Regions from separate parts of the Homo sapiens genome. Here region 2 is linked to region 1. Evidence: fine-mapped expression QTL. Tissue or cell type: subcutaneous fat. Region 1 holds a variant in brackets; the other region holds the start of a gene. All regions are shown on one strand. Distances are between the middles of the regions.

Region 1 (10,929 bases):
TCCCTATTTATTCTCATTTTATAGATGGGGCACAGAGACATTGTGTGACTTGCTCAACAATAAACAGCTAATAAGGGCTGTGCGTGGTGGTTCACACCTGTAATCCCAGCACTTTGGGAGGCTGAGGTGGGCGGATCACCTGTGGTCAGGAGTTTGAGACCAGCCTGGCCAACATGGCAAAACGCCATCTCTACTAAACATACAAAAATTAGCTGGGTGTGGTGGCACGCACCTGTAATCCCAGCTACTTGGGAGGCTGAGGTAGGAGAATCACTTGAACCCAGGAGGCACAGGTTGCAGTGAGCCAAGATGGCGCCACTGTGCTCCAGCCTGGGAGACAGAGGCAGACTCCATCTTAAAAAAAAAAAAAAAAAAAATGGGCAGCTAGTAAGTCTAGCCAGGATCACATCCAGAGTTCCAAGCAATACTCCTAGTCAATAGTAGCACTGCTACTGATTGCTTTTTCTTTTCTTTTCTTTCTTGTTTTTTTTTTTTTTTTTTTTTTTTTGAGACAGAGTCTCACTCTGTTACCCAGGCTGGAGTGCAGTGGTACACTCTTCGCTCACTGCAACTTCTGCCTCCTGGGCTCAAGCAATCCTCCCATCTCATCATCCCAAGTAGCTGGGACTACAGGCGTGTGCCACCACGCCTGGCTAATTTTTATATTTTTTTCGTAGGGACTGGGTATCGCCATGTTGCCCAGGCTGGTCTCGAAGTCCTGAGCTCAAGCAATCCATTGTCCACCTTGGCCTCCCAAAGTGCTGGGGTAACAGGCAAGAACCGCCGTGCCCAGCCTTGCTAGTAATTTTCATGAACTAACTCATCTAATTCTCACTGCAGCTCTATGCAAGAGATATTATCAGTATCACTCCTTTACAGAAGAGGAAAGGGAGGCCACAGATGTTTAAGTGATTTGCTCAGAGCTAGAGTCATAACCCTGGCACCTGGCTCCTAAGCCTCTGCTTCTTGCCACTATACATCGTCATTCAAATCCCTCAGCTCATTCTAAGGTTTCAAAGAAGAATGTAAGTTAAATATTGCCAATATCTGTAAACACATGAATGACCTCAGTCCCTGTTCAGACACGGGGTTGGTGTTGGTTTGGGGGAGGGGAAATAAACACCAAGAATCATCTCTGAATTGATCTCCACTCTTTGCATTGCTGTGTTACTCCTGTTTCAGACCTCACCTCCACCCGCGACAACCCAGTCCCCTGAAAGCACTATGGATACCTCACTGAAGAAGGAGAAGTCAGCCATCCTGGATCTTTATATTCCTCCTCCGCCTGCTGTTCCCTACTCTCCCCGGTATGTTGCTGTCCATTGTCATGGTATGCTTGTCTCCTGTTGGTGTCATTTGTAAATGGTGGTGTGAAAAGAGGATCTTGAGAGAGGAAGTTGCTGAGCCACAGTGTGACAGGGCTGAATCTTGAACTGCCGTTAAAAGTATGATCAGCCTTATTTTATAGGAGTGTAGGGACATATCTGGGTTCTGTGGGGCTTGAAGCTATACAGTTTGGTGGGGAGGGCCCTTCTGAGAAAAGAATATGGCAGTATTGGCCAGGTGTGGTCGCTCACACCTGTAATCCCAGCACTTTGGGTGGCTGAGGCGGGCAGATCACTTGAGCTCAGGAGTTCAAGACCAGCCTGGGCAACATGGTAAAACCTCATCTCTATAAAAAAATACAAAAATTAGCTGAGTTTGGTGGCAGATGCCTGTAGTCCCAGCTACTCAGGAGGTTGAGGCAGGAAAATCGCTTGAGCCTAGGAGGTGGAGGTTGCAGTGAGCAGAGTTTGTGCCATTGCAATCCAGCCTGGGTGACAGAGCGAGACCCTGTCTCAAAAAAGAAACAAAAGGATATAGCAATACCTTACTTTTGAAAAACGAATGAAAACGTGCTCTCCTGGGGCCTTGGAAGGGTCTATTGGGGGCCCTGCAGGTTAAGTTTCATTAACTCCATGGTAAATTCATCTTGAGGGGGTAGATAATAAGTATTTCTGTGAGATTAATGAGAGTTGCAGCTTGATTTTGCTGAGAAAGATGTGTTCTTCATAGAACTTGAAAAAAAACCTATGTGGCCAGGTATGGTGTCTCACGCCAATATTTCCAGCACTTTGGAAGGCCAGTTCAGAGGATTGCTTGAGCCCAGAAGTTCAAGACCAGCCTGGGGAATATAGTGAGGCCCCATCTCTACAAAAAATTTAAAAAATTAGCTGGGTGTGGTTGTGTGCACCCGTGGTCCTAGCTACTCAGGAGGCTGAGGTGGTAGGATCACTGGAGCCCAGGAGGTCGAGGCTGCAGTACAATACACCATGATCATACCACTGCACTCCAGCCTGGACAACAGAGTGAGACCTAGTCTCAAAAACAAAAAAACAAAAAACAGAAAAACTCAGACCTTGTGAGTGTAGGTATGAACATTTCATATTTGTGTGTGTGTGTGTGTGTGTGTGTGTGTGTGTGTGTACCATAAATTCTTAAAAAGATAGTTGCTTTCTTCATGGCTAACTTGAATACTGTATGGTATAATGAGGGTGGTATATAGAGTGTACAGGATGATTTAGGTGTGATCTAGGCTTATTTTTATCAACTCACATATTTATATATGTTGATAAAACTAGACAATCTGGCTCATTTATTCAGCATATCTTTCCTGAGTATTGGGTCTGGGTTACCCTCTGACACAAAACAGACTCGGTCTTTGACCCTACAGAACTGCCAGGGTCTTATTCAACAATTCAAGCATATATTGAGAAATATATGATTAGGTTATAATATTTCATAAAACAAAGTTCAGGCTGGATTTTATTACAGTGACATTTTACTTTCTATCAGAATTTTTTGTTTGTTGGTTTTCATTTGAAGCTGAGGTATTTGCTTCATTGTATTTCTTCTGCATTGGGTGCAGAGATTCAACATTGTTTTCCATTTCCTTGAGTCTTGGCTTACTCAGAACTTATTATAGCGTGTAGAGAATGTACCTCAGGTGATCGGGGCATTCTGGTTTGCAGGATCTTAAGTGTGTTTAAAGTTACAGGTAGTCTTTCCCTCTGCATATAGAGAGCATGACATTCCACTACTAATGTGTGGATTGTTCTATCAGAAACTGGAGGAAGGCACCCTCCCTTGATCCAGAATATTCTTGTCTGGGTTCCTGGAGTAGTGGCAAGAAAAGGGGTGCTGTGTACATAGTGAGAGATAAAGGAACCTGGGGCTAGGAGGAGAGCTGGATTAAACTGCTCGGGAAGACGCTTTTGAGAGTGCACACACACCACTCATGAAGGATTTTCTGAGGAATGAAAAATGGGAATGGATTACTGAGAAACAAGTCATGAGTCATGAAAGCTTTGTGAATGGGGAGTTATATGCCCGGTTTAAAGGTATGGAAGGAGATATATTTGTGGGTGGGAGGGGTAGGTGGATGCCATCCCACCTGGGAATACCACACACAGACATGGCTGATTAGTAGATTGCTTTGGGACTCAGTTGATTCTGTATTTTGTCTAGCAGTTTTTGTCCTGATTTGCCTAATGGAATTTACCAAGTGCAAAAAAACTAAGCAGCTGGTAACTTGGACTCAAATTAATCCTACAGTTTAAACTGACATGTAGATAGAATTAGAATGGAATCAGTGATCCAACTTTTGCTGGTTTTTGTAGTATTTGATTCAGAAAAGAATCACTCTCCATTGGTTACTATAAAGGTTCCTTTGTATCTTTTGACATGGTTTTCAAATCTAACAACTTCATAATATATCAAGTCTTTTTTGCTGGATTTTGGCAGAGATCCGACTCTTGGCATGAGCAACGTGGTTCGCTAGAGCATACCTTAATGTGTGATTGCTGTAGTAAATAGGATATTCAGCTACACACAGAAGCACAGGAAAACTAGAGCTGTCTTTTCAAAGCTATATTTGTTTGGATATTAAAAAAAACCCTGCATTTACTCTTCTTTTTTTTTTTTTTTTTTTTTGAGATGGAGTCTCGCTCCATTGCCCAGGCTGGAGTGCAGTGGCATGATCTCAGCTCACTGTAACCTCCGCCTCCTGGGTTCAAGCACTTCTCCTGCCTCAGTCTCCCAAGTAGCTCCTGCCACCACACCTGGCTAATTTTTGTATTTTTAGTAGAGATGGGGTTTCACCTTGTTTGTCAGGCTGGTCTTGAACTCCTGACCTCAGGTGATCCACCTGCCTTGGCCTCCCAAAGTGCTGGGATTACAGGCGGGAGCCGCTGTGTCCGGCCTGCATTTATTCTTATTTCATCACGTCATGGTATTTTGCTTATTTAATAGGATCTGTATGTATTTGAGCGGCAACTGGGGTTGACAAAAGGAATGCTTTTCCTCCAGTGGAAAAGGAGAATTTAAATTATCTTCTGTGTGCTGGAGGTAGCAGCACTGCTGGAATTCTTCAGTATGAGAACATCTTTGTAAACAACTTAATTATTGTCCATATTATCTTCCAGGGATGAGAATGGCAGTTTTGTTTATGGAGGGTCCAGTAAGTGCAAACAACCATTGCCTGGTCCTAAGGGTTCAGAGTCCCCGAATTCCTTCTTGGACCAGGAAAGCCGGAGACGAAGATTCACCATTGCAGACTCGGATCAGTTGCCTGGGTACTCGGTGGAAACCAACATTCTGCCCACAAAAATGAGAGAGAAAACACCATCTTATGGTAAGTTTCAAGTGTTTGTTTTGTTCTGCCGTTGGCCTTGACTTCTCCTCCCCGCCCCCTGCCTTAGTTGGAACTGTTGGATGAATTTGGCAGACTTCAAGAGTAATCTGAGGAAAACATAAACCTCAATGAAATTCTAAGTATGAGACCTTTATTCA[T/A]CTCTGTCAAGCGGATCCTTGTTGAGTCATTACTCTGCCTGGCATGAAAGCCCAACTGGGTGAGATCATGTTACAGTTTTAACTTTCAGTGCCTGGGTTTTAGCTTTGGAGTTGCTTTGCTCTGTAGACTCACAGGCTCAAGTTTAATGTGCCTCTATCTTAGTAGCACTCTATTTCCTGCTATGGAAATACAGTGCTTTAAAATACTTTTATTTTAAAATTTGTTATTGCTTCTGTCTAAGTGGGTGTGGTATTGTGAGGTCTAAGTTATACATAAAGGGAACGGTTCACTAAAGTTCCAGAACTCATCAAACTTGTCACCTTCTTTCTCGTCCCTCTGAAGGCAAGCCACGGCCTTTGTCCATGCCTGCTGATGGGAACTGGATGGGGATTGTGGACCCTTTTGCCAGACCTCGAGGTCATGGCAGGAAAGGTACGTTTCATCCAAGCAAACCAAGGAACAGCAAATGGGGAGTGAACAGCCCCAGGGCCTGGTTTCACCTCTGTTTCTAAATGTGTTATAATAAGTAGACTGAGTACTTGGCCTTTCTGAGTCCCGTTTTCTCATCTGTAAAATTAGGACTGCTGAAGATCTTTAAGATCCTACTTATTTCTAGAATGGCAAAATTATATAATCCTAGTTAGTGATTGTAAATATCCTAATTAGCATTGAGTGCTGTAAAAAGGCTATAGACTTTAATGGTCTAATTTTTATTCATTTACTTTTTAGAGACAGGATCTTGCTCTGTTACACAGGCTGGAGTGCAGTGGCGTGATCATACCTCACTACAGCCTTGAGCTCCTGGACTCAAGTGATCCTCCTGCCTCAGCCTCCTGAGTAGCAGGGACTACAGGTGCACGCCACCACGGCTGGCTAATTTTTTTTTTTTTTTTGGTAGAGACAGAGTCTCAATATGTTGTCCAGGCTGGTCTCAAACTCCTAGCTGTAAGTGGTCTTCCTGCCTCAGCCTCCCAAAGTGCTGGAATTACGGGGATGTGCCACCATACCCAGCCAATAGTCTAATTTTTTAATGAATAGAAATAAATTATTCATTAAACAATCTTTTTCAAAATTTATTTTTAAAAATTGAGATGGGGTCTTACTATGTTGCCCAGGCTGGCCTTGAACTCCTGGGTTCAAGTGATCCTCCCACTTCAGCTTCCTGAATAGCTGGTGTTACAGACGTGTGCCACCATGCCCAGCTTTCATTAAACAATCTTATTCTAAATTTTGTTGCTTTTATTTTTGGAGTCTGTTTGATTTCTGATGAACAAACATGGATTTTTTTTTCTTCCAAGTCCTTCTTATGTTAGAAGGCAGTTACTATTTGAAAAGAAATTTGTGTTTAATTCACCCTGTAATCAAAGTCCCTGGTTATTATGCTGGTCTTGAGTGAAATGTTTTAAAACATTCTCATTTTATTGCCAGATTGCATTTGATTGTCATCATTGGCAGAACATTATAACATTGTTTTTGCAGTTGTTGAAACAAAGGGCAGTTGAAAAGTTAAAGTACAATAGGCTTTAGATAGTAAAAGGAAGAAGAAAAAATTCTGGAAGCCTAACCTTCCAAAGGGATTGATTGACCCCTGACCCTTTCTAGGGACTTGGTAAAGTTTGTCACCTAAGTACCCATATCACCTGTATTATGCTAAAGTGAAAAAGGGAAAGATGCCTGGGTACCTACCATTCAGGATCCCCTTAGTTAACGTGTGAGTATCCATGGAGCAGTCAGCAGGTGGCAGGGCTGTCCGTTGTTTAGATTTAGACACGTTAACATCTTCCTTGCCGTTCATCTGAGCCAGGGTTGAGCCTTTTATTTATTTTATACATGGAGAGATGAAGTGTCAGGGTTATGGGGTGTGAAATTGGGAAATGGAAAAATACTTGTTCCCTCCACTCCTCCTTGCATATTTTTCTTGCATGATTGTTTTGGAATAAAGGTATCTATCTATACACAGCCACTTAAAAAAATAACAGTTTTATTGAGATATAACTCTTTGCATGAAATTCAGCTTTTTAAAATATACAGTCAGGTGGGTTTTAGTATATTCACGGAGTTGTACCCCAGTTGCCACTATTCCAGAACATTTTTGTCACTCCAAAAAGAAACCTTGTGCCTTTTAGCAGTCACTCCCAATTCCGTCCTTCTTCAGCCCCTGACAGGCACTCATCTACTCTGTGGATTTGCCTGTTCTGGACATTTCATATAAATAGACTTATGCAACATGTGGCTTTTTGACAATGGGCACTTTTTCAATGTGACTGTTCCCCTTTCATTACAAAAGCAAAGCAAGTACATTGAAAAACATGGAAGGCATGAGAAAATAAAACTCAGCTGGAATCTGTTTCTCTGACCTAAGAAATAATCACTGTGAATGTTTCGTGTGATTTCCAGTTGTTCCTGTATTTACATTTATATACTTAGAAAAATGTGCAAAATGGGAGAAGTTGGCCAGGTGCGGTGGCTCACACCTGTAATCCCAGCACTTTGGGAGGCCAAGGCAGGCGGATCACGAGGTCAGCAGTTCGAGACCAGCCTGGCCAACATGGTGAAACCCCGTCTCTACTAAAAATACAAAAATTGGCCAGGTGTGGTGGTGGGCGCCTGTAGTCTCAGCTATTCGGGAGGCTGAGGCAGGAGAATCTCTTGAACCTGGGAGGCGGAGGTTTCAGTGAGCCCAGACCTCTCCATTGCACTCCAGCCTGGGCAACAGAGTGAGACTCCGTCTCAAAAAAAGGGGAGAAGTAAATATTCAATAATACTATGTAAAAATGAATATTATCTACACCATATTTGAAAAGAATATAGCCGTATTAGAATGCCATCTTATGGCTCTAGCGCCTATTTATTCAACGTGCCACTGTTGGAAATTTAGGTTTTTTTTTTTTTTTTTTTTTTTCAAATTCTAAAATTTGAAAAAGGCTAAAATTTTCTAAATTCTAAAATTTAGAAAACTTAGAATTTAGAAAATTTAGAAAATTCTAAAATTCAAATTCTAAAATTTGAAAAAGGTTTCAGTAGGCTAGGTGTGGTGGCTCATGCCTCTAATCCCAACACTTTGGGATGCTGAGGCAGGTGGATTGCTTGGTCTCAGGATTTCGAGACCGGCTGGGTGTGGTTGTGCGCACCTGTAGTCCCAGCTACTTGGGAGGCTGAGGTGGGAGGATCGCTTGAGCCTGGGAGATGGAGGCTGCAACTAGCTGAGATGGCACCACTGTACTCCAGCCTGAATGACAGTGAGACCCTGTCTCAAAAAATAAAAATAAGCATAAAAATAAATGTTTCAGTAAGCATCCGTGAGTCCATAGATCTTTGCACATTTTGGGGTGTAGAATTTCCGCTTCACAAGGATGCTACATGTTACCAAAGTGTACTGTATTTTAAGTTTCTATTCAGTTTCTTAACATTCCAGCCACATCCCAGGGGGTCTGCTGGCAGTTAGGGCAGGATCACTCTTTTCCTTGTTCGGGAATGTTCCTGAATGCCCAGCTTGAATGCCCTGCATTAAACAATGCATAAACAGTTCTGTTCAGCCATCGCGGGGACACTACACTCTATGGTCCCCACCCACTAAAGGAGACCCGTGTGCTACCTCTCAGGCGCTAAAGCAGCCTAAAGTATGAGGGACCCTTCCCATTTCTGCTTCCAGAGCACCCATTGGTGGGCCCAGCCACAGGTGGGACCTTGTGGCCAATCCAGGGAGGAGAGCAGTAAAGGTATGGTGCCCACATTCAGGGTGGTGGCAGAAGTCTGGGCAGGCCGAGGGCCCTCCAAAGAGCACTGTGTAGGGGATTGTGATTTTTTTTTTTTTTTCCTGGAGGGGACAGAGTCTCGCTCTGTCAACAGCCTGGAGTGCAGTGGCGCGATCTTGGCTCACTGCAACCTCCGCCTCTCGGGTTCAAACGTTTCTCTGAGTAGCTGGGACTACAGGCGCCCGCCACCACGCCAGCTAATTTTTGTATTTTCAGTAGAGACGGGGTTTCACCATGTTGGCCAGGATGGTCTAGATCTCTTGACCTCGTGATCCACCCACCTCGACCTCCCAAAGTGCGGAGATTACAGGTGTGAGCCACCACGCCCGGCTGGGATTGTGACTTAATGGACTTTGTCTGGAAACAGGGGAGGATGCCCTTTGCCGGTATTTCAGTAACGAGCGGATTCCTCCGATCATTGAAGAGAGCTCCTCTCCCCCATACCGGTTCTCCAGACCCACGACCGAGCGGCATCTGGTCCGGGGTGCGGACTACATCCGAGGAAGCAGGTGCTACATCAACTCAGATCTCCACAGCAGCGCCACGATTCCATTCCAGGAGGAAGGGACCAAAAAGAAATCTGGCTCCTCAGCTACGAAGTCCTCGTCCACAGAACCGTCCCTCCTGGTCAGCTGGTTTACGCGCCTCAAACTGTTGACTCACTGAGAGGGACCCTGCTCAGGCCACCTGCCTGGCTCCTGCCCCAAGTGCCTTGCTTTTACAGTGGACAGCCTCTTCTCGTTTCAGCCTCAGTATTATGTAGGGACCTTATGCAATTTCTTTTTCTTTTGAAAAGTTATCTACTGCCCTTCTTGGAAGTTTGCAGGATTGGATGGGAACAAATTCAGAGGATCTTAGGTGCTGGCTTGTGGAGACAAAAGGAGGGAAATGGGTAGAGCCTGTTTGTCTTGCTTCCCCAGAGATAGAATGTGAAGACACGCGCTAGAAATCGCAGTCCTGGCCAGAGACGTTATGGTCATTGTGAGGGACTGGTGGCATTGTTCCTTTTTGAGGGGCTGGGGGGACTCAAATTGGTGGCTGTTTTCACACAGATGTGTTGGTTTGTGGTCCAACTTCTTTATCTGAAAAAGCCAGTGAGAAAACATTTTTGATTTGATTTTTCTAAACTATCTACCATATTTTAAGTGTAGCAGCTTTGACTTTGCAATAACGTGGCAAGTATCTGATTTCTCCTTTGAGGCAGAGGTTTAAGTGTAGGCCTGTTACACTTGTTTGATACCTTTTTCATGACAGTCTCAGTATAGATCAGTTGGTACAGAAATACATGAACACATTTTGATAGGGCTTATTTCACACAAAGAAGTTTATGGTTATTTGTGTGGGGTGGTGTTGTTATATATTATTGTCTTTAAGGGAAAAGAAGCTATAAGATTCGCTGACAGCCAAAGTATCATTTAGAAAAGTGAAGCAACAAGATTTAGGTTGATGAAAGATACATGAGTTTGCATTTTGACCTGTTCAGTGTCTGTCTTCCAGCACGGTGTGTACACTTCTTCAAAATTGTACACAGTTTGCTAATTAGAAATATCTTGGAAAGCCTCATGGTCACTAATTTTCAACTAGCATCAGGTATTTTGAAAACGTGTGTCTGGATATTAACTCTTGTTTAAACTGAATGTATGATATTTTGTTAGAATGGAAAAGTACTATCTTGTTAATTTAAGTATTTTAAATATAGTTGTATATTTTTCTTACTCTTAGTCACCTGTAATTGAAATATTTCTGTTTTGCGTCATACACGAAGCTAGTGAAAAAGAAAGTGCAAGGCATTTTCAGATGAGCAAGTGACTATCGTGGCTGTTGCCAGCAGGGCAGTATTGTTAAAAAAAATCAAAATAAACCCTCCCAAGCATTTTGGGATTTTATGGATTAGAAATGGAAGAACAGGAGAAGCATATGCAAAGTGAAATTGCACGAGGGGAATTTTCTGAGGTATCTTCCTAGGCAGAGCCGAAATCTCCTACTCCAAAATGCCCTTTCTCATACCACCGGAATTGTTGAGTTTGCTGAACTGCCTGGAATTCAGCCCATGAAAATCACTGGAGTTAGGAAACATCTTCCCTTTAAAATGCTTCTGGTGTGGTTAAAGGAACTAGCAACCACTCATGTATAATTACTGTGACTGAATTCAGTCAGGCTGGTTTTTTTTGTTTGTTTGTTTGTTTTTGAGATGGAGTCTCAATCTGTCACCCAGGCTGGAGTGCAGTGGCGCAATCTCAGCTCACTGCAACCTCCACCTTCCAGGTTCAAGCGATTCTCCTGCCTCAGCCTCCCATGTAGCTGGGATTATAGGTGCCCGCCACCATGCCTGGCTAATTTTTG
Region 2 (10,929 bases), 100 kb before region 1:
CTAGCAGCAGAGATTTCCTTGGACTCAGGTAACACTGGTTTAACCACCCAAGGGCTTTCTGTGGCTCCCTAAACTGAGGCTCCTCCAGCTTCTGAAATCCCTCTTGCCACCTGCCTGTTACTCCAGCTGTTTCTCTGGGACTAGGCCCAGGAGAATGGGAAAAAAAGTGGAAAAGAAACGGATAGAAGCCCATTCCTTTGTAACCAAAAGCAAAAGTTATACAGAACTCGAACGGAAAAAGAGATTTGATCTGGGAGTTTTCCCAGAATGGAATGCGCATGTATTAAAACAATTACTGTAAAACAATGACTGTCGCTATCATTTGTGAGCTGGTTGTGGATTTCAACAATCACTTTGCTGACTTTTTGGCAGTAAGTGTGAGTTTTCCTGTTCTATGAGACCTTTGGGAGTGTTCTCAAAATCCTATGAAATCATCTGACTGCCTACAGGAAACCCTGATTGGTATTAATTTTCATCCTTTCCCTTTTGATGTTGAAGTAGACTGAAACACTTCCTGCTTTTCTACGTTCTTTTTCTTTCCACCGCTCTCCCATCCCAAATGGTTATAGTATTTCCAAATGCAAGGAGCTAGTTGTGGAAAATTAAGGAATAGTCTCCTGTTACAGGCTCAAATGTCTAAGGATCCCAAAGGGGAAACATATATGTGCCTTTAGTAAAAATCTGGATGTGTTGATTAGCAATGGCTGCAGAATTTAAATACCTTTGGTAGGTTGAAACTAGAAGAAAGTCTCCTCCTCTGTATGGAATGGTAGCTAAGTAATGGAAGAGCAGACAACTTTTAGACTGAGCTCAAAGTTAATTAAAGCTCCTTAGTTATAGTCTGGGGCATTTGGGTATATATTTCTATTTTATTTGAAACAGGATTATTAAATATTTGTTATGCCAAACTGAAGTTAGAAAAATATAAAACAATACATATTTTTAAATTGTTATTATTTATTTTTACTAGAAGTGTCTTGAATACATAAAACAATATATAAACTATTTTTATGTTCTTGTTAACATTGTAGAGATTTTAAAAAATTTTAGCTTAGTGCGTTTAGGATACTCAAACCTGCTCTTTCTTTCTTTCTCTCTTTCTTTCTTTCTCTCTCTCTCTTCTTTCTTTCTTTCTTCCTTTCTCTTTCTTTCTTTTTTTTTTTTTGAGACAGAGTTTCACTCTTGTCACCCAGGCTGGAGTGCAGTGGCATGATCTTGACTCATTGCAACTTCTGCCTCCCGAGTTCAAGGGATTCTCCTGCCTCCCGAGTTCAAGGGATTCTCCTGCCTCAGCTTCCTGGGTAGCTGGGAATATAGGCACCCACCACCACACCCAGCTAATTTTTGTATTTTTAATAAGAGATGGGGTTTCACCATGTTGGTCGGGCTGGTCTCAAACACCTGGCCTCAAGTGATCCACCCGCCTTGGCTTCCCAAAGTGCTGGGATTACAAGCATGAGCCACCAACCCCGGCCAAATCTGCGTTTTATTTCCAAATGTTATATTTTTACATTGCCTAACTTAATTATTGTTTTATTTTTAGGTTTAGAGTGATGTTCATTAATCTTTTTTCACCCTGAGACTTTGTCCTTATCAGCATAGAATTTATGATTGAAGCAAAAATCACCGAGTCTGAAACTCTTGGTATTATATTGACTTGTTCTGAGATTATGAGTCCCATAAAGTTAAATTGGAACTGTAAGAACAGCTGGTGTAAATGGCATTCTGTTCTTTTTGGATAATCTGCAACTCGATAGGGGGTACAAAAAGTAATAAAAATCCACAGGAAAAAATGCAGGCTTGATTGTTCCCTCTTTGTCTGTGGCACCCTCCTTCGTTAGTAGCTTCTGCACTTCAGGGCAAGGACATCCAGTTCTTTTGTGGGTACTGCCTCATCTATCAACTCTTCCAAGGTACAACGATAAGGCCTTGAAAATAGAATTTAGCAACATCAATGTTTCTCTTTTTATTAGAAAAGATTAATCAACTTTTCCAAGTATGATTTAAAGTAGGTGAGGTTTTTGAATATTTATCTAATTGACATTGATCTTTGAGTTAGAGATAGGGCTCAGTAAAAGAAAGCCAAATACCAGCTTTCCAACTGTAGAATGACTTAACGTTCCTGAATGATCAGAAGAATTTGAATAAGTGAGGCAGCACTTGAAAAATAAAATATAATAAAGTTTGAAGTCTTTACTACCTGAATTATCTGATAGGGAACCTGGCATGTTCAGGGAGATAACTACATTACCGTGGTGTGAAGAATTCAGACCAAATGGAATTAAATGAAAGACAAGAACATGAGCAGTCTGGATAATTTAGTTAACCAGTGATGACTTTGCACTGATGTAATGTCATAGATAAGAATGCTTAGCTCTAACTGTAGGATATTTTCCAGGCAGAAAACTGCAGACGTTTTTGGTATCTCTCAAGATAAAAGATAACTTAAGAACATACACGAGACAATTATATGTGAAAAAATTAAATAATTTTGAATTTTCTGAAAATAGTTAAAAAGAAATGTGAGGGAAAGAAAATAAGAGAAGAACCTCAGATTGCGAAATAAAGTTGAATATTTAGAGCAACTTGCTTTCTTTCTTTCTTTTATTCTGGAAAACATTACATTGTTTTTAACTGGGGAAGGAGACTGGCTTTTTGCAGATTAATAATTTGCTTAAAAGTTTGCTTAATTTGCTCCTCTGTGTTTATCAAATTATAGGTATAACCACCAATCCAAAATACTCCATCCCTTGCTCTCACATAAAGAAGTAATAAATTTTGAACAAGCTTAAAACGTTAATATCACATTGGTCCTCGAACTCCCTTGTTTGTGTTTATTTACCAGGTCACTTTCCTTGGATGAAAGACTACAGAAGAAATCCACCTTTAGAAAGTCACATGGTGTTTTTGATCTAAAAGGCTACTCATCATTTCTGAATCCTCCTAGTGCTTAGTTTAGTGAGTACCTAATACGTATTTCATCAACTGAATAAATGACTTAAACATGCAAGAAGGGTCAAAGTCAGAAAAACGGAAGAGCTGGAAAGAAATCTAGAAGATCTGGGTTCTAGTATCTGTTCTACATATTAATTCAATTTTAAAAAGGCTTATTGAACTCCTTGTATGTGCGAGGAATTGTAGTAAACATTAAGACACAAATGAAGAGTTCTGATCTGGAAGATGGCATAGCTGCAGTTTGGTAATGTGCGTGAACATATGGTGTAATAGCTACAGATTTTAGCTAGCAGAGAAGAAAAGTTAGCAAATTTACAAATTATCCTTTTATATATACTTAATTTTTAAAGCCATTTACTTAAGATTCTGCCTTTATTAGCTTTGTATGCCATTAATAGCTTTGTATGTCCTCAAGTTTGCATTTCAGCTAGGAAGGCAGGCCTCCCTAAAACTTTCACGTGCTAACAGCTGTAATTAAGGTAGAAGGCTTTATTTAAATAGTAATTAGCTTCCAGAAGTTGAAGTGTAAACAGAATGCTAATTCATTTAGATAGTTAATTGGTCTTCCGGGTTAGAGATCTTAGCGTGGCCTTCCTCTTTAGCTATGCTGTATTTATGTACCAAGTATAGATAGTGTGTTGGCTCCGTGGGATGTTTTGCAAACTCTTGCTTGACTCGCAGAATTTTAGTGTTTTAGCTCTTCTGGTAAAGACTACTGCCAATGAATCTGAAGACGTGAAAACATCAAGTAAAATTCCACGGCAAAATCATTAATATTTGACCTTTCTTTTATAATTGTGGGGACCGTATGGCCCAGTTTATTCATGTTATTCCAATGTAATTCTTGATAGTTGCTTCTTTCATGCTCAAGAATATTTTGATTTGGAGGTAAGTTATGTGGTCACCCTAATCATAATCAGAAATCACACAACAGGCAGTGATTGCTGAAACAAAAGGTGTGCATCAGGTTGGTTACCCTTTCCAGTGAACCAGTGTCAAGGTCCTTCTCTCTGCTGACTGCTGTAAAGATGGTTAATGCTGGATGTCATTAAGTTTAAAGGTCTTTTTTTTTTTTTAAGGACAACTACTATATCAGGAATTTTGTCATTGCCTTTGCCAACTTGTGTGGTCTGCCAGTCACTTTCGCTAGATGAAGAAAAAGAATCACTATATTTGATAGTTGTGTGTCTCTGTGTTGCCCAGTCCTCTAGGGGAGTTGAATGGGAGGTGGGTCTGATGTTTTGCTTTTTAAAAATGTTTCTTTTGCTTGGATGCTCCAGCTCATCAGATGCTAGGCTGGCTGCTAGCTATTTTTCCACATGTGCGTCCAAACAGACCTGTGTAAGTAGCACATATCACACGAATTCAACAAATACTGAATGAATACAGTGGCTGGCACATAGGAAGCATTCCCGGATATTTACTGAATGAATAAATACCAACCTTGCCTTTGGTCCCGTGCTGGGTGCTACAAGTTAGGTGGTAGGAAGAAAGGGAGGAGAGAAAACTCTATATGAGATCAAGTAGGTTCTGCCCTCAAGGGGTTAATAGTCTCCAAGAGGAAGATGTAAATAAATAACCGTAATTGAAAGTAAGAATCATTCAGTGCCAAAAAGAGTGGGAGGAAGAGGTTGCTGGGCGGGGCGGGGCGGGGGTGGGGGGTTGGGGGGGGTGTTGGGGGGTGAGGGGAGGGGTGGTGGCGAGGGTGGCAGGGGTTGGGGGGGCGGTTAGGATGCAGGGAGAACTTGAAGGAGAGGCAGGCATTCAAATTAGATTTTCCCCCAGTTTAGCATTAACTCTGGCCCCAGTTGCAGTCCATGAATGTGGAAGGGCCCTCCCCTGCCAGGCGCTGAAATTGTGCACGAGCTATTTTTTTTTTCTTGGCTAACAGCTTTCCTCTCACGGTTAATGACTAATCCCAAGGAGCATTAGCTCACTCTGTAAATATGAAATTATAATATAGCAAAATATAACGCTAAAAGCCATCAATCTAATTTTAGTCGCAAAGTTGAAATTTCATAGCAATAGCATTAAAAGAGTTACATTGTTACGATTTCAGTCAACATATAAATGAAATAAAATTGTTCTGGCCTGGCGCGGTGGCTCAGGCCTGTAATCCTAGCACTTCGGGAGGCCGAGGCTGGCGGATCACCTGAGTTCAGGATTTCGAGACCAGTCTGGCCAACATGGTGAAACCCTGTCTCTACTAAAAATACAAAAATTAGCCGGGCGTAGTGGCAGACGCCTGTAATCCCAGCTACTCCGGAGGCTGAGGCGGGAGAATCGCTGGAACCTGGGAGGCAGAGGCTGCAGTGAGCTGAGATCGCGCCACTGCACTCCAGCCTGGGCGACAGAGCGAGGCTCCATCTAAAAAAAAAAATTGTTCTACTTTAAGAAACCTAAAATGACGGCTTAATGGCAGAGTAGTATTACGATATAAAGCATTTAAAATGAACAGAACATGCAGATCTTACTTTTTTTTTTCTTTTCTTTTTTTTTTAGTGTATTGTTGCTCACAGCGAGACAGAGTGTTCTGCTACCCACAGGGCCAGGGCCTCACACAAACCAGCGGGCTCTCCAGGGTGCGCGCGCGATCTACAACCCGCCCCTTGAAAAGGAAAGCGGGGCCCGGGACGCTGCGGGTGTGAGCCGGACCGGCTTAGAGAGGGAAAGTAACCCGAGTCCGCCGCTTCGGGCGGACCCGCCCCCTCCCACGAGTTTCCCTAGACCCTCGGCCCCGCCCTCTCTTTTATTCGGTTTGCAGCAACCGGAGCTGAAACTTTGCAACCCGAGCGCGCACGCTCTGCGCTCGGCCCTGCCAGGGCGGCACGGGAGGGCGGCGCAGGAGGTGGGACCTGCGCCGGGAAGGCTCCGGGACGCCAGCGCACGCGGAGCGGGGACCCCGGAGAGCCAGCAGGCGAGAAGACCGGCCGAGGGAGAGCCGATCGCGCCTCGAGAGATCCGAGGAAGTGGTCGCGGGCCGGGAGGCTCCCGTGCCGAGCCGAGGCCAGGGGTCTGGGGTCGCAGCCCGGCGTGCCTGCAGCTGCCGTCGCTCGGGAGCAGCAGCTGTGCCCGGGATCCCGGCGGCGGCGGGGGAAGGAGGAGCTGCAGCTGGACTGTGGCAGCTGGAGGGAGAGGGCCGGGCTCCCCTGGCGGAGCCGCGCTGGGACGACTGGCTGACCGCGGCCATGCAGTCTTGACGGAGTCGCTCGGGCGCAGGGGAGCAGCCGCGGGCGCGCCCTCCCGGGAAGGGGCACCGGAGCGCAGGCAGCAGCACTTTATCTGCGACTCTCCAGCCCAGCGAGAGGCGAAGCGGTTTACCATGGAACCCGTGACCAAGTGGAGCCCCAAACAAGTGGTGGACTGGACTAGAGGTGCGCGGGCCTTGGGGGGGTCCGGAGTCCTCCAGCCTCGGGGATGGGGCGGACGAGGAGCTGGGGAAGAGGGTACTTGGCCCTTCCTCCCGGCGAGAAGCGGTGAGGGCACAGCCCGGTGACAATGCAAACTTCTGCCGAGTGGCCTGTGCGCTCCTATCTCTCGTACCTGCTCCGAGCTCTTCCTTTCCAGGGTGCGGATTGTGGCAAGCCGAGGGGAGCCCTATCTTTAAACCAGGGAGTAGGGGTGGCCTTTCTGTGGCGGTTGAGGGCTGGGGATGCCGATCTCGGGACTCGGCACTCGGGCCGGGGGGCGCTCTCCCTGCCTGGCCCCGGTGCGGTGCCCGGCGACCCGGGGGCCCGAGTGCAGAGGCACAAGGTGCCTTTGTGTGGGTGACTCCCGCGGGACCTCGTCCATGCCGCCTGCCCAGAGCCGTCCGCAGGCGTGACAGGGCTGTCGGACAGGTAGAGGGAGACTCCGGCGGGTCCGCCGAGCCTGTCTGTTTTTGTTGGAGAAGGCGAGAGGGCCGCGCAAAAGCCAACACCATAGCATTTGCGCCAGGGAGAAACCTCGAGCCAGGACTCCCCGGGAGGCAGTGACTTTTGCTCCGGGAGGCGCCAGTATCCCCGGTGGCGCTGCATTTTCAGGCCACATGTAAGCACTGGGAAGGAGAAATATAATTGTTTGGAACCACTGTCTTGATTCATACAATATTTGGGATGAGGAAGGCAGTGGGGCTGGGGCGGTGGGGGGGTGGTGGGGGGAATGAGCAGAGGTAGAAGCTTGTCCTCCTAGCTGGCTCGCTTACTTTTCAATGTCTCCTACGATTTCGAGGGAAAGGTACTAGAGTTTACTCAACCCTTTTCTGTACTTTCAAGAGAACAAAGTCCACCAAGAACAATCTGTATTTTCATGGTTTCCCCCCACCCCCAACGACATCTCTGTTTCAAGTTACTATTTGTTTTTCTATCTGCTCTTCCAGGTGAGGAATGGTGTTCTTTCTCAGTAATAACTAGAATTGTGTAGCGCTTTACAGTTTGCTAAGAGCTCTCTCTGTTATTGTCCTTGGTCATCACAGTAAGCCTGTGAGGTAGGTAATACTGGTAAGACCAGGTCGTCTTTCAAACCGTCCCACCCATGGCTGCAGCATAATGAAAACTGATCACCGCTACATCTCATTTCTCACGCCTGTGACTTACACATAGACCACGTGGAATAGGATGTCCGAGGTGTGTGGGGTGTGTCAGTGGGTATGTCTGACCATTTCCTGCTCCTCTGGGAGAACTCCTTGAGAACGGGTTTGTCAAGTGAGCAGAATTTCCTGGACTCCTATATAAAATGAAGCTAAAAACAACACATGTTTCTGCCTTGGTGACTAGGTTTCCCTTGGTAAAGAGTAAGTGGCATTGCCAGTACTTGGTAGGAAGCATGAGCTTAAAAGCCATCCATGCCCACGCTAGCTTGAAATGAGGTGTGTTCCTCCATTCAAGATGCTGCCAAATTCCCTAGGCTGGCAGCTTCCTGAAACTGAGTTGATATGTATTTTATCTGTATGTCCCTCATAGAGCCAACTTGAGACACTGCAAATTTCAGCTACTGTTGACTTCTAGAGCCGCTCTGTCCAACTTAGTAACCAGTACCACTTGTGGCTCTGCAGCCCTTGAAATGTGGCTGGTTAGAATTGCAATGTGCTGTAAGTCTAAAATACACATGGCATTTGAAGACTTGGTATGAAAAAAAAGAACATGAAATATCTTAATACTTTTTATTACATGTGGAAATGATAGTATTTTGATACGTTAGGTTAAATAAAATATATTACTAAAATAAGCTTCACCTGTTTATTTTTACCTTCTTACATATGTCTCCTAGAAAATCTAAAATAACACAGGGCTCACATTTGTGGCTTCCATTATATTTCTATTGGACAGTTCTGCTGTAGCAGAAAGAAAGGGTTACATCTTATCACCCTGGCTTTTCTGAGCCTCTGCCAGCTTAGTTGATAATGTACAATCAGAAAAATGGTAACAGGCGCACAGGAAGATTATGGAGTGAGATCTTCACACCCTCAAGATTTGTGTCTGGTTTTGTTGTTGTTGTTGTTGTTGTTTTTGTCCCTCTTGGGATTGGAAAAGGAGAAGCGTAAAATCACATCCTGTTATGTTTGTTGAGTATTTAAAAGGGAAAGTAGATTAAAACGTTTTTGTTAGCCAGTTGCCTTGACGTTATCAGTTAGTTGAGTTACTTTCATCTAGGAAAAGTTTTCTCCTGACCTGAAAGAACATCTATGGCTGGCTCAATACCTACGATACTTACTAGGTTACATACCTGTGGTTGGCACTTGACTACGTTATACAAAATGCCTGTGCCCTTTTGGACCCTGAAATACAGCTTAGTAGAAAGACCTGGATACGTTCTGTGTTCGAATCTAAAAAAGATGGCTAAGATGATAAGAGGCTGCAATCTTCCAAGTTGCGTGACCCATTACTTGAATATTTCTCATAATAATGATGCTCAAGTATTGACTTTTTAATGAACTATCGACTTACAAAAGCTCGTCTGCTTATAGGACTATTTTTAGTGCTCTTTGCTAATCTCTTTACCCAACCTTTATTTTATAAATACATGCTACTGATAAGCAGCTCTTCATGTAGACTTTGCTACTCTTGGTATTGCATGAATCTGGGTAGGGCGATTATGAGAACCATAGAAGGCCTTAGATTTAAAACTGTCTAAACCTGGCCACAGTCGACAGCTGGATCTCACCTCCTTGTTATTTGACAGATGTGTGCCTTAGGAAAGAAGTTCTTGTCTACAGAATGAATTAACCTGTCTGGCTTTTATTATTAATGTTTAGCTACACTGTCACCAATTTTACCGTAATGTTAGTGGATCCTCAGTAATTATTAAGCAGTGTGTCAGGCACATGTCTAAGCATTGTACAAATATCAGCTCATTTAATAGGCACCACCACCTTTGAGGTAGGAACAGTTATTTCCATTTTGCAGTTGAGGAAACCGAGTCACACACAGATTGACCGATGTCACCCAGCAGAGCAGGTGGTTTGGCTTCACTCCACTCCATTTTCTCAGGAGTTTCTTCCCAAGGCCACATCTAGACCACACCGACAATCTTTACATTTATGAATAGAACTTCAGGATTCGGTCTGAATAGCATATGGTAGCGGAGGAGTCTCATCCAGTATATGTCTGTGTTATTCTCTATCTTTAGTTCATGTCAGAAAGTTATTTGTAAGTCAAATTAATTCCTAGTTCATGGCGCCTTGCCAGTCAGTTCAGTAAAGGCCTTTGCAAAGCAAATGATCTTTTACAACGTGTAGGGTTAGCCGCACATAACAGAAAACCCAGTGGGTTAACCAAATTGGGGTTCCATGGCGCTGCCATCTTGTTCAGCCATTCGTAGCACATGGCGTAGGGTATGGCCTGGCACATGGTGTTCATTTTCATACTTAATGCTTCAGTGCAAGGTGGCGGCTCCTGCATGATTGTCTTCCTATTCCAGGCAGAAGGGAGTCTCATGGAAGACAGAAGACAGGTAGCAGCCAAGTCTTCCCCTTTAAAGAGTTCTTTGAAAAACTGTCAAGTGACCTGGTTTACATCTCAGGTGCCAGAAATGTCACATGGCCACCTCATGCAGCAGGGAAGGCTGGTTGCTGTAATTTCTTTCTTTTTCCTTCTTTTGTTTCTTTTCTTCTTTCTCTTTCCTCCCTCCCTCACTACCTCCTTCCTCCCCTTTCCTCTCTTTTCCTTTCTTTTCCTTTTCATTTCTTCTTCCTTTTTTGCTTTTTCCCTTCCTTTCTTTTTTTTTAAGTTTGGTACATTGTGGCCCTGAAAAAAACTTGGAGTTTGGTCAGAAAGGAAAAAGGGGAGAATAGATATTGGTAGGCAGGCAACAGGGATTTACATGCACTGATTTTCATAGCTCAGTTCTCAGAGTACACATGTGCCACATTCCCTACTTATATCCAGCCCTGTTTTAGAAAAAGCATTATATCTTCATTCCTGTCCAACCTTCTTAGGTCAAAATCTGAACTTATATGAGGTCCTTTTCTCTAAGCTTGATTTAAATATGAGAAATTTCATTGTCAAATGCAGCTACCACAAGTCGTTTTTCTGCTTTAAAAAGGCCACTGGGGAGTGCCTTCGACGAGGAAGACGTGGGACTGGTTGTCCCAGCAGAACTGTCCTAGCCTTGGCTGTTGATCAGCCTCGAGTGGGTAGGCTCTCAACAATTGTGTAGTTGGCCAGGCGCGGTGGCTCACGCCTGTAATCCCAGCACTTTGGGAGGCCGAGGTGGGCGGATCACAAGGTCAGGAGATCGAGACCATCCTGACCAACATGGTGAAACCCCATCTCTACTAAAAAATACAAAAAAAATTAGCCGGGTGTGGTGGTGGGCGCCTGTAGTCCCAGCTACTCGGGAGGCTGAGGCAGGAGAATGGCATGAACCCGGGAGGCGGAGGCTGCAGTGAGCCGAGATCGTGCCACTGCACTCCAGCCTAGGCGACAGAGTGAGACTCTGTCTCAAAAAAAAAAAAAAAAAAATAATAATAATAATAAAATTGTGTAGTTGAGTCAG

What was found. PIP is the estimated chance that this variant, and not a neighbour inherited with it, causes the effect.
Region 2: CNKSR3 starts here. The variant in region 1 is fine-mapped to the expression of CNKSR3 in subcutaneous fat (TwinsUK, PIP 0.95).

What each region holds. Positions count from the first base shown.
Region 1 is chr6:154,404,677-154,415,605 of GRCh38, reverse strand. It overlaps CNKSR3 (CNKSR family member 3), which reads left to right. Exons shown (of 13, transcript NM_173515.4): 10 at 1,183-1,307; 11 at 4,464-4,672; 12 at 5,174-5,263; 13 at 8,954-10,929. The coding sequence ends at 9,252. Among named protein-coding and RNA genes, the nearest start is that of IPCEF1, 53 kb to the right of the region's middle. The variant T/A (reference allele first, on the strand shown) is at 4,831.
Region 2 is chr6:154,505,463-154,516,391 of GRCh38, reverse strand. It overlaps CNKSR3 (CNKSR family member 3), which reads left to right and starts at 5,707. Exons shown (of 13, transcript NM_173515.4): 1 at 5,707-6,329. The coding sequence starts at 6,278. LOC101928868 (a long non-coding RNA gene) reads right to left here and starts at 5,601. Exons shown (of 2, transcript XR_001744422.2): 1 at 5,430-5,601. RefSeq lists a cis regulatory region at 2,208-2,448.